Regions from separate parts of the Homo sapiens genome. Here region 2 is linked to region 1. The links come from fine-mapping of genetic effects on gene expression. Tissue or cell type: whole blood. Region 1 holds a variant in brackets; the other region holds the start of a gene. All regions are shown on one strand. Distances are from middle to middle.

Region 1 (8,000 bases):
GCTCAGTGAATCTGTGTTTTTTTACATAAGATGGCATAGACAAATGGGGCAGAGGGAAAATGCAGGGAATCTGCATGTTGCATAAGATAATCTGGACAAAATGGGGCAGGGGAGCAATCACATATGATTTGTGTCTGCTGGGCGGGGGTGACTGCAAAGCTGTCGATTTGCATATTGTCATGGTGAAATCTTCACAGCTCACTAGGATTTTCCTTGTGGGCAAAATATGGGGGAGACGTGTAGCTTTTCATCTTGTAGCCATTTTATTTAGGAACCAAAAGGGGGAGGCAGGTTTGTGTGACCCAGTTCCCAGCTTGACTTTTCCCTTTGACTAAATGAGTTCAGGATCACAAAATTTAATTTCCTTTCACAATGCGTACTCCGTGTTTAGCTCCCACTTGTAAATGAGAACACATGGTATTTGGTTTTCTGTTCCTGCATTAGTTTGCTCAGGAGAATGGCCACCAGCTCGATCCATGTTGCTGCAAAGGACATGATCTTGTTCTTTTTTATGGCTGTGTATATGGGCCACATTGTATATGGGCCACATTTCCCTTATCCAGTCTACCATTGATGGGAACCTAGGCTGATTCCATGTCTTTACTATTTGAGTTTGCTATTTGTTGTTCTTTGCAGGAAGAATGTGGGCTCAGAGCATGGCCCCAAATAGGTGACGTTGGTAAAGCAGGTTTAACGGGTGGCAAGCCAGGTGATGAGAGGGAGACAGGAAGAGGCCTGCTTAGCAAGGGGGTCCTTGTTATGCAGATGAAGGTTCCCAGGTAGCAGCGCTCAGAGACGACCATGGTAAATGTTTCTTTTCAGACCTGTAAAGGTGTCAGAGTCTCCGTTTCTCTCTCCTACATCCAGGAAAAGCTTAGAAAGGGAAGGCCTGGCTGCAACAGCAAAGATCCTCTACAGATGCCAATTTCCCCACCTCAGTCTGCTGGCCCTGGAGCGGCAATTTCAAAATAAGGCAAAGCAATATATTTTGGAGTAAAATATTTTGATGTCCGTCATCTTCGTTACCTCGGAAGCGAGTGTTGTCATCAGATCCATTTAACAAAATGAAAGCAATGCATGACGCTCGACTGTCCACTTCAAAGGAGCAATAGCTGTGGCCCTATAGGTAGCCCATCCTCAGAACTCACTCCCTATGACACAGACAAGCTTCAGGATGGGAGGGGGCTCATGACAAAGTGCTCATTACCTGGGGTCAAGAACTGTCTACTTTTGGCCGGGCATGGTGGCCCACGCCTGTAATCCCAGCACTTTAGGAGGCCAAGGTGGGTGGATCCCTTGAGTTCAGGAGTTCAAGACCAGCCTGGGCAAAATAGTGAAACCCTGTCTCTACAAGAAAATACAAAAATTAGCTGGGCATGGAAGTGTGCGCCTGTGGTCCCAGCTACTCGGGAGGTGTAAGTGACCCTGGAAGTTTGAGGCTGCAGTGAACCGTGATAGCACCACTACCTTCCAGCCTGGGCCATGGAGTGAGACCCTGTCTCAAAAAAAAAAAAAAAAAAAAAAAGGACACTAAAAAAGAATTGACCACCTTCAACTCAACGTACTATGAGATGAGTTCCTTCCACCATCTTTCTGGAACTAGCTAAGGGGTTCCCCTTACCTACTACCTAGGTAGACCTGATTTATTAAGACGGGAATCGCAATAGAGAAAGAGTTTAATTCACACAGAGCTGACTGAACGGGAGCATGTGAAGCAGCTATGCTGTCTGGGGTACATACCTGGGGTTCATTGTTGCACGCTGAGAAAGAATTCAGGACACAGACACATGTGGTTGGGTTAAGGAGTTGAAAGTTTAATAGAAGAAAGGAGAGAGGAGAGCAGCTCCTTGCAAGAGAGAGAGGGAGAGAGAGAAAGAGAGAGAGAGAAAGAGAAGCATCTGAAAAAGTTGGGAGGTTGTGGACCGCAGCAGCTTTTGTAGGCAGGCTGGAGGAGGTGGTGTCTGATTTACATAGGGCTTACAGACTGGTTCGATCAGGTATGACTTCTACATAGTGCGTGGGGAAGGCTGGTGGCCCCACCCTAATTTTGTTATGTAAATGGGCTTTCCAGTTGGTCAGTGCCATCTTGTCTGCTACTTACTGTACATGGGGCTGACAAAGAGGAGGGAAGATGAAGCTGCCATCTTGAACGTGTCTAGGCCCTAGTTCCTGCCGGCATTCACCCATGTAAGCTCCTAGCTGGCTTGTCTATGTCTGCAGCTCAACTTTATTTTTTATTTTTTATTTTTTTTTGAGACGGAGTCTCGCTCTGTCGCCCAGGCTGGAGTGCAGTGGCGTCATCTCGGCTCACTGCAAGCTCCGCCTCCCGGGTTCACGCCATTCTCCTGCCTCAGCCTCCCGAGTAGCTGGGACTACAGGCGCCCGCCACCACGCCTGGCAATTTTTTCTATTTTTAGTAGAGACGGGGTTTCACCGTGTTAGCCAGGATGATCTCGATCTCCTGACCTCGTGATCCGCCCGCCTCGGCCTCCCAAAGTGCTGGGATTACAGGCGTGAGCCACCGCGCCCGGCCACAGCTCAACTTTACAGGCTGCTCTTTGTTAGAAAATGATTTGGGGCTGCTTTTCATTAAAAAGAAAAGCCTTACCAAGGACTCCCATACCCTTGCTATGTGCCTAAGTAATTAACTAATTCCTTCTTAACTCCTATATCAACTGGAGGTTTTGCTTTTTTTTCTTTAAACAGGGTTTCATTTTGTTACCCAGGCTGGACTGCAGTGGTGAAATCATAGCTCACTGCAGCCTCAACCTCTTGGGCTCAAGCGATCCTCCCGCCTCAGCCTCCTGTGTAGCTAGGACCACAGGTGTATGCCACCACACCTGCCTAATTTTTAAAAAATTTTTGTAGAGATGGGGTCTCACTATATTGCTCAGGCTGGTCTTCAACTCCTGGCCTCAAGTGTTTCTCCGACCTCAGCCTCCCAAAGAGCTGGGATTACGGGCATGAGCCACTGCACCTAGCCAAGACTGGAGTTTTATGACTCAAATCAGCTTCCCCCAAAATTTGGACACTGGGCTTTTTAACGTGTAATTTGGCTGGTAGGAGACCCGGGCGTGGGGAGTGCTGAGTGGTTGGTTGGAGGTGGAATGACAGAGGACGGACATGGGTTCTTTTTGTTGTCTTCTGTTCTTGTGTGGGACGGCAGAGCTCGCTGAGCCGCATTACC[A/G]GTCTGGGTGGCGCCGGCTGGTGCATCTCAATGAAGGGTTTAAAAAATGTCTCAACTTCAACCTTAGGTTTTACAATAGTGATGCCATCCCTAGGAGCAACTGAAGAGGTTTGGAATCTTGTGGCCTCCGGCTGCATGGCTCCTAACCTATTAATATAATTTCTAATCTTGTGACTAATTTGTTAGTCTTTCAAAGGCAGTCTGATCCCCGGGGAAGAAGGGAGTTTGTTTCAGAAAAGGGCTGTTATCTTTGTTTGAATGTTAAGCTGGAACTTCCTCCTATGGTTATCTGAGTCTGTGTTCAGGAATGAACTAGGGCTGTTCGAGGGCTACAGGCACGATGCAGTCGGTTAGGTCAGATCTCTTTCACTGTCGTAATTTTCTCACTGTTATAATTTTTGCAAAGGCGGTTTCAATTTAACTGAAAATGTCAGGCAAAGACCAAATTTAATATTTTTACAGAAAGCCACTGGGAGTAGTTTTTTATTGTTTTATTATTTATTTATTTAGAGACAGAGTCTCACTCTGTTGCCCAGGCTGGAGTGCAGTGGTGCAATCATAGCTCACTGCAGCCTCAAACTCCTGGGCTCAAGCGATCCTCCCACCTCAGCCTCCCGAGGAGCTGGGGCTACAGGCACACACCATCATACCCAGCTAAATTTTTAAGAAATTTTTTGTAGAGATGGGGTCTCACCGTTGTAACTGCCCAATGGGTTTACCTTGCCCCCTGCCTAAACAGGGCCGATTTATCAAGACAGAGGAATTGTAATGGAGAAAGAGTAATTCATGCAGAGCCAGCTGTGCCCGAGACCAGAGTTTTATTATTACTCAAATCAGTCTCCCCAGGCATTCAGGGTCCAGAGTTTTTAAAGATAATTTGGCGGGTAGGGGCTTGGGAAGTGGGGAGGGCTGATTGGTCAGGTTGCAGAGGGAACCATAGGGGGGTGAAGTGAGGTTTTCTTGCTGTTTTCTGTTCCTGGGTGGATGGCGGAACTGGTTGAGCCAGATTACCGGGCTGGCTGGTGTCAGCTGATCCATCCAGTGCAGAGGCTGCAAAATGTCTCAAACACCGCGCTTACGTTTTACAATAGTGATGTTACCCCCAGGAGCAATTTGCAGAGGTTCAGACTCTTGAGCCAGAGGCTGCACGACCCCTAAACCATAATTTTTCTTTTCTTTTCTTCTTTTTTTGTTTTTTTCGAGACAGAGTATCACTCTGTTGCCCAGGCTTGAGTGCAGTGGTGTGATCTCGGCTCACTGCATCCTCTGCCTCCCTGGTTCAAGCAATTCTCCTGCCTCAGCCTCCCCAGTAACTGGGACTACGGGCACATGTCACCATGCCCGGCTAATTTTCATATTTTTACCAGAGACGGGGTTTCACCATATTGTTCCGGCCGGTCTCGAACTCCTGACCTGAGGCGATCCACCCTCATCGGCCTCCCAAAGTGCTGGGATTATAGGCTTGAGCCACTGCGCCCAGCCCTAAACTATAATTTTTAATCTTGTAGCTAATTTGTTAGTCCTACAAAGTCCAACTGGTCCCCAGGCAAGAAGGAGGTGTTTTCAGGAAAAGGCTGTGATCAGTTTTGTTTCAGAGTGAAACCATGAACTGAATTCCTTCCCAAAGTTAGTTGGGCCTATGCCCAGGAATGAACAAGGACAGCTTAAGGGTTAGAAGCAAGATAGAGTCGGTTAGGTCTGGCCTCTTTCACTGTCATCATTTCCTCAGTTACAATTTTTGCAAAGGTGGTTTCGCCACGTTGCCCAGGCTGGTCTTGAACTGGGCTCAAGCGATCCTCCTACCTTGGCCTCCATAAGTGCTGGGATTACAGGCCTGCACCACCACATCCGGCCCACCTTGGAGCGTGTTATATAAAGCGAGCCGTCCCCACACCCCTACAGCCTACGAATGAGCCTTTTCACCCCATGCACGATTCTCTGAAACTGCTCTCTGTAAGGAGCTATTCGGGACACGTTCTTTTGTTCTCTGGCATACTCATCAGGTAGAAAGAAGTGATTCAGCAAGCGGCTCCCCTGAGAGCCCTGATCGTTTCCTGTTTTCCTGTGAAGTTAGTCTCGGGAGGTCTGCGCTGTGCCATTTTTGGGGGACCATTATCTGGCTCCCGAATGGATCAAAGCTTACTGGTCAGGGGGCTGCTGTATCCCTGGGGCAAAACTGCCAGAAAATAGCAGGTAGCCCTGTGGTCCTTGGCAGGGCCAGGGCCCGGTGGAAGCAGCAGCTGGGCCAAGAACATCAGGCGTGCATGAGGCACAGCCCAGTTTTGGGAGCATGACGCTTGTTTTCGAGGATGCCTGTGCTCCCCTTCCTGCCTGGACCCCTGCTCTCCAGCCCCGGCAGAGCGAGGCTGTGAGTCAGCGCTCGGATTAGCATCAGCATGGAGGTGCCGGCTGGGATGCAAGCCGCCGCCATGGGATGAGTCACGCGGCTTCTCCCCGAATCCCCAAAGGAGGCAGAGCGTGTTAGGCTTGTTCTGGCTTCATGCAGAGCACTGAGGGGTGAGGGCTGACCGTGGCTGGCCGCGGAGGGAAGCCCAAAGTCTGGCCTCCCTGCGGAGACTGGGGAGAAAATGTTGCGCTCGTCGTTTTTAAATACTGGGGGACAAGTTTCCCTTGTCTGCTAAGGCTGCCATTGTAAATTACAAGAGTCAGGAGGGCTGAAGCAAAAGGGATTTCTTCTCCCACAGTCCTGGAGGCTGGAAGTCTGAGATCAAGGTGTGAGCAGGGCTGGTTCCTCCTGAAGCCTCTCTCCTTGGCTCGTCGACATCATCATCTCCCTGTGTCCTCACAGGGTCGTCCCTCTGTGTGTGTCTGTGTTCCAATCTCCTCTCCTTATGAGGTGTCTTAGTCCATTTCAGGCTGCTATCACAGAATACTATAGACTGGGTGGCTTAGAAACAGCAGACATTGATTCTCTCACCGTCCTAGAGGCTGGAGGTCCAAGATCAAGGTGTGAGCAGGGCTGGTTCCTCCTGAGGCCTCCCTCCTTGGCTTGTAGACACCATCTTCTCCCTGTGTCCTCACAGGGTCGTCCCTCTGTGTGTGTCTGTGTCCTCATCTCCTCTTCTTATAAGGTCTGTAGTCCTATTGGATTAGGGCCCACCCTAGTGATCTCGTTTTATTTTAATCACCTCTCTAAGGACGTTGTGTTCAAATACAGTCACAGTCTGATGCCCTGGGGGTTAGGACTGCGACCTGTGAATTTGGAGGGGGATATAGTTCAGCCCATAGAACCCACTATCCACATAAGTCATTCCACTTCAAAATCAGCACAAAGCATTAGTTTTAAAAATCTCAAATCTGTATTTTTAAAAATTGCTCTTAACACATTAGAAAAATATAGAAAAACTTTTTTTGCTGTTTTTCTGAGACAAAATCTCACTCTGTAGCCCAGCCTGGAGTGCAGGGACGTGATCATAGATCATTGCAGCCTCCACCTCCTGGGCTCAAGCAATCTTTTGCCTCAGTCGTCTCCCAAGTAGTAGCTGAGACTACAGGTGCACATCACCACACCCAGCTATTTTTTTTTTTTAAGTAGAAACGGGGTCTCACTATGTTTCTCAGGCTGGGCTCCAAATGAGCTCAAGTGGTCTTACCGCCTTAGCCTCCCAAAGTGGTAGGATTACAGGTGGGAGCCACCACACCCAACCTGGAGGAACTCTTTTTTTTTAAAATTTTAAATAAATTACTATTTGTGGCCTGCGTTTTCATCCTATTCTCTTTTTTTTTAACCAACATTTGCTGGCATTTTTTTTTATGCCGAAGAAAACACCTTTGCCCATCTATGTCAGGCCTCCAGACCCTCAGGGATGTACATCTAATGCACCTTCAGCCACCGGTGTAAACAGTAAACAGGGGCCAGATGGCGCCTGTGCACCTTCCCTGGCCTTGGGAGAGCATTGGAATCTCTGCAGCTTTTAAGAGCATCTTGCTTCAGGTTTGCTGACCTGCTTGCTTCTGTAAGATCATGCAGACTTCCTGAGCAATATCTAGCATTTCATGGTCTCTTTTCTATCCTGCAGGAAGAGGGGGCTATAGACTCAACTCTCGTTATGGAAATACTTATGGTAAAGGAATTATGTCTTACAGAATATGTGAGGCAAAACTGTCCATTTGCAAATAACTAACACACTGTCTGCACTGATGGGAAGCTGATGCTTTCATCCAGTGCACAACCAACTGGCCGTTCGAGTCTCTCATTTGCATTTTCCTTGGTCATCCATGCTGGGGGGAGATGTTGTGCATGCCCTGAGGACTTCATTTCTTCAAAGGAACTATGGCCCACTTACAGGTGTTACTGGGTGCATGTGTGTGCACGTGTGTGTGTATACATATGTGTTCACACACAGGTATGCTTGTGTGTATTGTGTGTGCATGCATGTGTACATGTGCATGTGGATTTTGTAATCATGTGCATAAGTGCATGTGGATTTCATGTGCATGTGTGCAAGTGTCTGTGCACACATGTGGATTGAGCACATGCATGTTTGTGTATGTGCACAGATGTGTTGGCATGTACTTGTGGATTTTGCATGTGTGCATGCTTGTGCTTGGGTTGCATGTGCATTGCATGTTTCCCATGTGTGTCCATTCACATGCATACATTTAGGGGTGTGCAAGCACATGTGTGCATGTGGATAGATGCAGGAGTGTGCATCTGGGTGTGCTCGTGTGGTATGTGCATACTGCACGAATATATCATGTGCATCTGTGCATGTGGATTGTGTGTATACATGCGTGTGTACAGGCATGCACACACACACATGAATGTGTTTGTGTGTGCATATTTGTGTGT
Region 2 (8,131 bases), 52 kb before region 1:
AGTGATTCTCCTGCCTCAGCCTCCCAAGTAGCTGGGATTACAGGCACATGCCACCACACCCGGCTAATTTTTGTATTTGTAGTAGAAATGTGGTTTCACCATGTTGGCCAGGCTGGTCTCAAACTCCTGACCTCAGGTGATCCATCCGCCTCGGCCTCCTAAAGTGCTGGGATCGCAGGTGTGAGCCATCATGCGTGGCCTAGAATATTCTTATTTCCAATTTTACAGCAACAGAATGTCTTCTGTCTTGTTTCTACTTTAAAAAAACAGTTTGCTAAAGCTTTCTTTGTAGTGCAGTTGTGAATTTTCAGGAGCATCCCATGAACATTGAAAAGGAGATGCATTCACGCTTTTTAAGGTTATCGAGGATGTGAAAATTAAAGTCGGCTTTGTAAATTCTGCCATGTCTGTGAGCTCCCAGCATTTGATCAGCTGAGGCTTCGAGCGGTGAAGTAGAGTGCTTTTCCCCTAACGTGCTCTGATCTGGAGCCTGCGTGTATTACCGCTGGGCACACGGCCTGCCCTGACCATACTTTAGTGAAGCAGAGGTGATAAAACTGGGTTTCCCAGGACTCCTGCAACACACAGCTTTGATGTCGGCAAACTAGAACCCGGGAGCCAAATCTGCCCACGGTGTGTTTTTGTACAGCTTTCGAGGTAAGAATTTTTTTGTATTATTGTCGTTATCGTTGTTTTGAGATGGCGTCTTACTCCGTCGCCCAGGCTGGAGTCCAGTGGCATGATCTCGGCTCACTGCAACCTCCGCCCCTGGGTTCAAGCGATTCTCCTGCCTCAGCCACCTGAGCAGCTGGGACTACAGGCATGCACCACTACGCCCGGCTACTTTTTGTATTTTCAGTAGAGACAGGGTTTCACCATGTTGGCCAGGTTGGTCTCGAACTCCTGGCCTCAAGTGATCTGCCTGCCTCTGGCTCTCAAAGTCCTGGGATTACAGACATGAGCCACGGTGCCCAGCCAAGAATGGTTTTTACATGTCTGAATAATTTTCAAAACTCCAAAGAACAATAATATTTTGTGATGCATGAAAATTATGTGACACTCAAGTTTTTATGTTCATAAAGTCCACTTGGCGCACAGACATTGGTTACATATTGCAGCAGAATCCATATGGTTTGCAAAGATAAATGCCTTTACTATCTGACCTTCTGCAGAAAAGCTTGTCTACTCTTGCCTCAAGAAGCATGTAAAATACTTACAACACTGGCACGTTAGGCATGCTGGAAATCGTAGCAATTATTTTGCACCTTCACTACATCTGAGAGGATTTCCTGAACTTAACCATTTAACCTAACTCCTCACTACCTTTTGGGAAACATTTTTTTTATTAAGGTGAAATTCACAAATCATAGAATTAACCTTTTTTTTTTTTTTGACCCGGAGTCTCTGTCACCCAGGCTGGCGTGATCTCATCTCACTGCAACCTCTGCTTACCGGGTTCAGGCAATTCTCGTGCCTCAGCCTGCCAAGTAGTTGGGATTACAGGCAGTCACCACCACATCTGGCTAATTTTTGTATTTTTAGTAGAGATGGGTTGCATCATGTTGGCCAGGCTGGTCTTGAACTCCTGACCTTAGGTGATCCACCCGCCTCAGCCTCCCAAAGTGCTGGGATGACAGGAGAATTCACCATTTTAAAGTGAACAATTCAGGTTGCTTGCTGCTTTCACAGTGTTTTGTGGCCACCACTTCTACCTAGTTCCAAGATATTTTCACTGCCCCCAAAAGAAATCCCATTAGCAGCTGTTTTTTATATTGGCTTCCTGGGGCTGTCATAAAAACATGCTTCAAACTAGGTAGGGGGCTTAAAAAACAGACAGTTAAGCTGTCACAGTTCTGGAGCATAGAGGTCTGAAATCAAGGAGCAAACAGGGTGGATTCCTCCCTCCGTCCCTCCTTCCCTCCCTCCCTCCCTCCCTCCCTCCCTCCCTCCCTCCCTCCCTTCCTGCCTTCCCTCCTTCCTTCCTTTCTCTTTCTTCCTTTCCTTACCTTTCCCCTTTCCCTCCCTCCCTCCCTCCCTTCCTTCCTTCCTTCCCTCCTTCCTTCCTTCCTTCCTTCCTTTCCTCCTCCTCCTTCTTCTTTCTTTCTTTCTTCCTTTCTTTCTTCTTTCTCTTTCTTCTCTCTCTCTCGCTCTCTCTCTCTTTCTGAGTCTCACTCTGTTTCTGTTGCCCAGTCTGTAGTGCGGTGGCACAATCTTGGCTCACTGCAACCTCTGCCTCCCGGGTTCAAGCAATTCTCCTGCCTCAGCTTCCCAAGTAGCTGGGATTACAGGCGCGCACCATCGTGCCTAGTTAATTTTTGTATTTTTAGTAGAAACGGGATTTCACCATGTTGGCCAGGCTGGTCTCGAACTACTAATCTCCAGTGATCCGCTCACCTCAGCCACCCAAAGTGCTGGGATTACAGACGTGAGCCACCGGGCCCAGCCAGCAGGGCTGATTTCTTCTGATGCTGTGAGGTAGAATGGATTCCATGCCCCTCCCATTGCGTCCAGTGGTTTGCTGCCAATATCCCTTGGCTTGTAGGTGCATCACCCCAATCTCCCACTTCATGTTCCCAAGGCCTTCTCCCTGTGTGCATGTCAGTGTCCAGATTTCTCTCTTCTTTTAAAATACCAATCATATTGCAGTATGACCTCATCTTAACTAATGATTAGGTTGGTGCAAAAGTAATTGCAGTTTTCACCTTCAAAAGTAATGGCGAGGAGCTGGGCACGCTACCTCACGCCTGTAATCTCAGCACTTCGAGAGGCCGAGGTGGGCGGATCACAAGGTCAGGAGTTCGAGACCAGCCTGGCCAACATGGTGAAACCCCGTCTCTACTAAAAATGCAAAAATTAACCAGGTGTGGTGGTGCATGCCTGTAATTCCAGCTACTCAGGAGGCTGAGGCAGAAGAATCACTTGAGCTCAGGAGGCAGAAGTTGCAGTGAGCTGACATCACGCCACTGCATTCCAGCCTGGGTGACAGAGCAAGCCTGTGTCTCAAAAAAAAAAAAAAAATTAATGGTGAAAACTGCAATTACTTTTGCACCAAAGTAATACATCTGCAAAGATCTTATCTCCAAAGAAAGTCACATTCTGAAGTACTGAAGGGTTGGGCTTCAATATATGAAGTTTGCGGGAGAAAAAATGCAACTCATAATATATCCATTCCCACGTCTTTCCAGCCCCTGGCAACCGGCAATGTGCTTTCTGTCTCTGCAGATTTGCCTGTTCTGGACATTTCAGAGAAATGGAATCCTACACAATGCGTTCTTCTGTGTCTGTTTTCTCTAACTCAGCATCCAGTTTTTGACGTCCATCCACTTTGTAGCAGATGTCACGGTGTCAGTCCTCTTTAGGGTCAGGGGACTTTGAAGGAAATATCTTTCTAAATGCATCAACTGCTTCCTGGACTCTGCCACTCAGAGCTTAGGACTGCACAAGCTAACTGCCTTAGAGCATTTCCCCCATATGCACACACACACACACATGAACACACATGCACACGCACACATGCACACGCACACACGCACACACACACAGACAGACACGTGCACACACACACACACCTGTGTGCACAGGAACTTAATCCATCCAAGTAACTTACCTTTATAAAGATGTTGCAGTCCAGGCGCGATGGCTCACACCTGTAATCCCAGCACTTTGGGAAGCCGAGGCAGGTGGATCACTTGAGGTCAAGAGTTCAAGACCAGCCTGGCCAATGCAGTGAAACCCTGTATCTACTAAAAATACAGAAATTAGCCGGGTGTGGTGTCGGGTGCCTGTAATCCTAGCTACTCGGGTGGCTGAGGCAGGAGAATCACTTGAACCTGAGAGGCGGAGGTTGTAGTGAGTTGAGATCACACCACTGCACTCCAGCCTGGGCAACAGAGTGAGACTCTGTCTCAAAAAAAAAAAAGGAAGATATTTCATAGAAGACAACTCCCAAACACCAGGTCAACAACATGAACAGACTTAACACTCCAGATGCTCAAATTTGCAGAGAGAAAAGTCCAAGGTTTATTTCTCCTTTTGGGTCTGTTTGCCATGAATCCTGCTTCTCTGGGAATTTAGAAGCTGCCCTCATAACTAAGACTGATTTTCCCCTTTCTCCTGCAGTTAATCTATTTACCAGAGGACTTCAAAGCTGTTTGCAAATGGTAACTTTTTAAGTGCTTGCCTACTGCTTCATGGTAGGTAGAGTGTAAGGGTTAACCCACGAGTTGTATATGGATAAATTAGACACACTCACAGATCTGCAGGGAAGAATATAATTAAAACCATTGTGAAAGCAGGAGTCATCATCGAACTCAGCTATCCAGTCATGTTTCTTCTCCAAGGAGATTTCAAACAGAAGATGTAAATTTTGGTAGTTACATAAAATGTCTCAGATTTAAATGAAAGACACAAAAAGCCACATATCTCCTTTTCCTGAACAACCGTCTCTGCTGAAATATTAGTTCTGCCACCTACAAAGACAACTGAAGGCTGAGGATAAAAAATGCCTCTTGGAAGTCACTGAGTTTGTTAGGTATAAAAGCCAAGACTTCAACTGAGGTCTTTGCACTGATGTGTACATTAACCCCACACTGGGTATCACTGTACAATCATGTCCTGCAGGAGGAAGATTACAGGCGGCCAGTGTCTTCTCTGGTTTCTGGGTTGGTGACTTTGAACTTGCTACAGCTCCCACACCCGCAGCGAGCAGAGTTGCCAAGCAAGTGTGCCGGCTTCCAGAAGCCTGAGATGCCCATTGGTGCTTGGGAACCACCCCAGTTTCCCCATCGTCTGTGCTGCTGCAGATTGGTTGGGGCAGCCCGGGGAGGCTGGCTCCGACACACGACTGAGTGTGCCTACACTGGTCCCACAGGTTTTCAGCTGTGGAGTTTGGGATCTGAGCTTGGAGCCCATTTGTTTCTGGCAGTTCCGCTCATATTTTCCACTTGAAGACATCGCCTCCCTTCCTTCCAAGCTGGGAGACCAGAAGTCAACAACAGGAGGGTGGAGAGGCCGGGTCTCACAATCCGCTTGGCTGGGGAGTCCACTGAGGTTCTTGCATCCTGAAGCAAACCATGGAGAGCTGGTGGGGACTTCCCTGTCTTGCGTTCCTGTGTTTTCTAATGCACGCCCGAGGTAAGAGGCATTTTGCTTTGAGGGAGATCTGCCTGGGCATGGATTTTTCTATTCTTGCTTTAAGAAACTCTTTCCAAAGGAGTTGCTATGAAGTGAATGGGGATAATTTGCCCAATGGGATTAGAAAGGAGACTAAGAGCGATGGGTGGCTGAGAGGGGAGGGAGAAGACGGGCTGCTCCCATTTGGAATCTGGGAATTAGATCCAGAAGGGCAGGATGTTAGCTGATACCATCTAGATATTCGCCATATTTTCCTGTTTTGATCCATGTGTCCCAAGCGTTTAAAAAATGACCTATTTAACTCCATGATTCAAGCATGACTGGGTGTGTGTGGAATGTCAGTCATTTCTTTCTGATTTTAAAAATTAGTTCTGACCATTTCCATACAGTAAAAGTAGAGTTGAAACTACTTCATCCCGTGGGGCAGATTACCAGAGATTCGTTTGCCGGAAGGGTTGCATTTATTCAGATTTTTAAATCTTTTCCTAAACACTGTCATTCATTCTTGCAAATTAAAACCACCTGAATTGTTCACATCAAAAACTTCGATATAAACTTGCAGGCTGGCTGTCCCAGATCCAAGATTAGATTTTTCAGTTCCGTACGAGGACCTCTTTAAGAAACTCCAATGAACTCATAAAGTACAGGATTTGAACAACGGTTGAGTAAGTTTCTTTGGTCATTTTCATGTGGCGATTTCAGAGAAGGGAACACCTGGGCGCATCTTAAGAGAGAGAAGTATTTCTGTTAGGAGTTAAAACACATCATTCAGATGTCCCTGTGGCAGCATTTCCTGTTTATCCTATTTAAAGACATGGACGTCATTAAGATTGGAGTTGGTTGTTTATGGGCGGAGGCGGTGTCGGGATGGATAGATCCTGGTGGACATAGTCTAGGATCTGCAGTGAGAATTTTTTATTATTCTGTGCTGTCTTCAGATCTCACCTAGTAAGTGGACAATGTGGCCATGCATTCATTAGCTTCTGTTTACAGGGAGATGTTCAACAGTAAACCCACCTCCCCAGAAAAGTACTTCCAGGAGTTTGTATCATTCACAGTAAGAGCCAAAGGTTAACCATATCCCCTTGGGCAAATCAACTTCTACAAAGTGCGGATACAGACAGTTCCCAACTTACCATGGTTTGACATGATGGTTCAATTTAAGATTTTTCAACTTTACAACGGTGTAAAATTGGTATGCATTCAGTACAAACGAAAACTGTACTTTGAGTACCCATACAACTTTTCTTTTTTTTTTTTGAGATGTCGTGTCGTTTCATTCTGTTGCCCAGGCTGGAGTGCAGTGACACAATCTGAGCTCACTGCAACCTCCACCTCCTACGTTCAAGCAATTCTCCTGCCTCAGCATCTCAAGTAGCTGGGATTATAGGTGCCCACCACCACACCCAGCTAATTTTTCTATTTTTAGTAGAGACTGGGTTTCACCATGTTGGCCAGGCTGGTCTTGAATCTTGACCTCTGGTGATCCACCGGCCTCCCAAAGTGCTGGGATTATAAATGTGAGCCACCATGCCCGGCCCCATACAGCCATTCTGTTTTTCACTTTCAGTACAATGTTCAATAAATTATGTGAGGTATGCAACACCTCATTATAAAGTTGACTGTGTGCTAGATGATTTGTCCATCCGTTGGCTGATGAAAAGTGTTCTGAGCACTCTGAAGGCAGGTAAGGCTAAGCTATGGCGTTTGGTAGGGTAGTTGTATTAAATGCACTTACAACATAAAATATTTTCTTTTTTTTAATGTGTTTTAATTTTTTTGAGGGAGGGGCCCACTGTGTCACCTAGACTGGAGTGCGGTGGTTCCATCATAGCTCACTGCAGTCTTCACCCCAGGGGTTCGAACAAACCTCCCACCTCAGCCTCCAGAGTAGCTGGGACTACAGGCATTTGCCGCTGTGCCTGACTAGTTTTTAAAACTTTTTGTAGAGACGGGATCTCACTATGTTGTCCAGGCTGGACTTGAACATCTCAGCTCAAACGATCCTCCTGCCTTGGCCTCCCCAAATCTTGAGATTACAGGCATCAGCCACCATACCCTGTCCTGCGCTAAATTCTTTGACTGACGGCAGCACTTCCTATGCACTAGGCATGGATTAACTTAGTTGATTGTCCCTCAGCCCTATGACGGGAGTGTCGTGCCTGATGTCATTTTACAGATGGTGTATTAGTCAGGGTTCTCTAGAGGGACAGAACTAATGCAATAGAAATATATATAGAGAGAGGAGTTTATTAAGTATTAACTCATATGATCACAAGGTCCCACAACAGGCCGTCTGCAGGCTGAGGAGCAAGGAGAGCCAGTCCAGGTTCCAAAACTGAAGAACTTGGAGTCTGATGTTCCAGCATCCACCATGGGAGAAAGATGTAGGCCAGAAGACTAGGCCAGTGTCTCTTTTCACATTTTTCTGCCTGCTTATATTCTAGCCACAGCGGCAGCTGATTAGATGGTGCCCACCCAAATTGAGGGTGGGTCCGCCCCTTCCAGTCCACTGACTCAAATGTTAATCTCCTTTGGCAACACCCTCACAGACACACCCAGGATCAATACTTTGTATCCTTCAATCCAATCAAGTTGACATTCAGTATTAACCGTCACAGATATGGGTAAACTGAGGCACTGAGGATTTGGACGGGGGCAGCCGGCAGCGGAATCTGAGCTGTCCTGTAGCTCTGTCTGGGAAGACTCCAGTGAGCATCCCGCTCTATCCCAAGCCTTGTCTTCTGAAAATCAGAATCATCCCTCCTCCAAGTGTTACAGGAAAGGGGTCCGGATCCAGACGCCAAGACGGGGTTCTTGGATCTCGCTCCATAAAGAATTCAGGGCTAGTCTGTAAACTGAAAACAAGTTTATTAGGAAAGTAAAGGAATAAAAGAATGGCTATTCCGCAGAGCAGCTCTTAGAGCTACTGCTTGCCCATTTTTATGGTTATTTCTTAGTGATATGCTAAGCAAGGCTTGGATTATTCATGCCTCCC

The links. PIP is the estimated chance that this variant, and not a neighbour inherited with it, causes the effect.
Region 2: XG starts here. The variant in region 1 is fine-mapped to the expression of XG in whole blood (TOPMed, PIP 0.97).

What each region holds. Positions count from the first base shown.
Region 1 is chrX:2,799,474-2,807,473 of GRCh38, forward strand. It overlaps XG (Xg glycoprotein (Xg blood group)), which reads left to right. Exons shown (of 11, transcript NM_001141919.2): 8 at 7,228-7,272. Among named protein-coding and RNA genes, the nearest start is that of GYG2, 25 kb to the right of the region's middle. RefSeq lists enhancers at 1-784, 785-1,726, 3,708-4,373, 4,374-5,038, 4,931-6,130 and 1 more. The variant A/G (reference allele first, on the strand shown) is at 3,188.
Region 2 is chrX:2,747,203-2,755,333 of GRCh38, forward strand. It overlaps XG (Xg glycoprotein (Xg blood group)), which reads left to right and starts at 4,838. Exons shown (of 11, transcript NM_001141919.2): 1 at 4,838-5,133. The coding sequence starts at 5,073.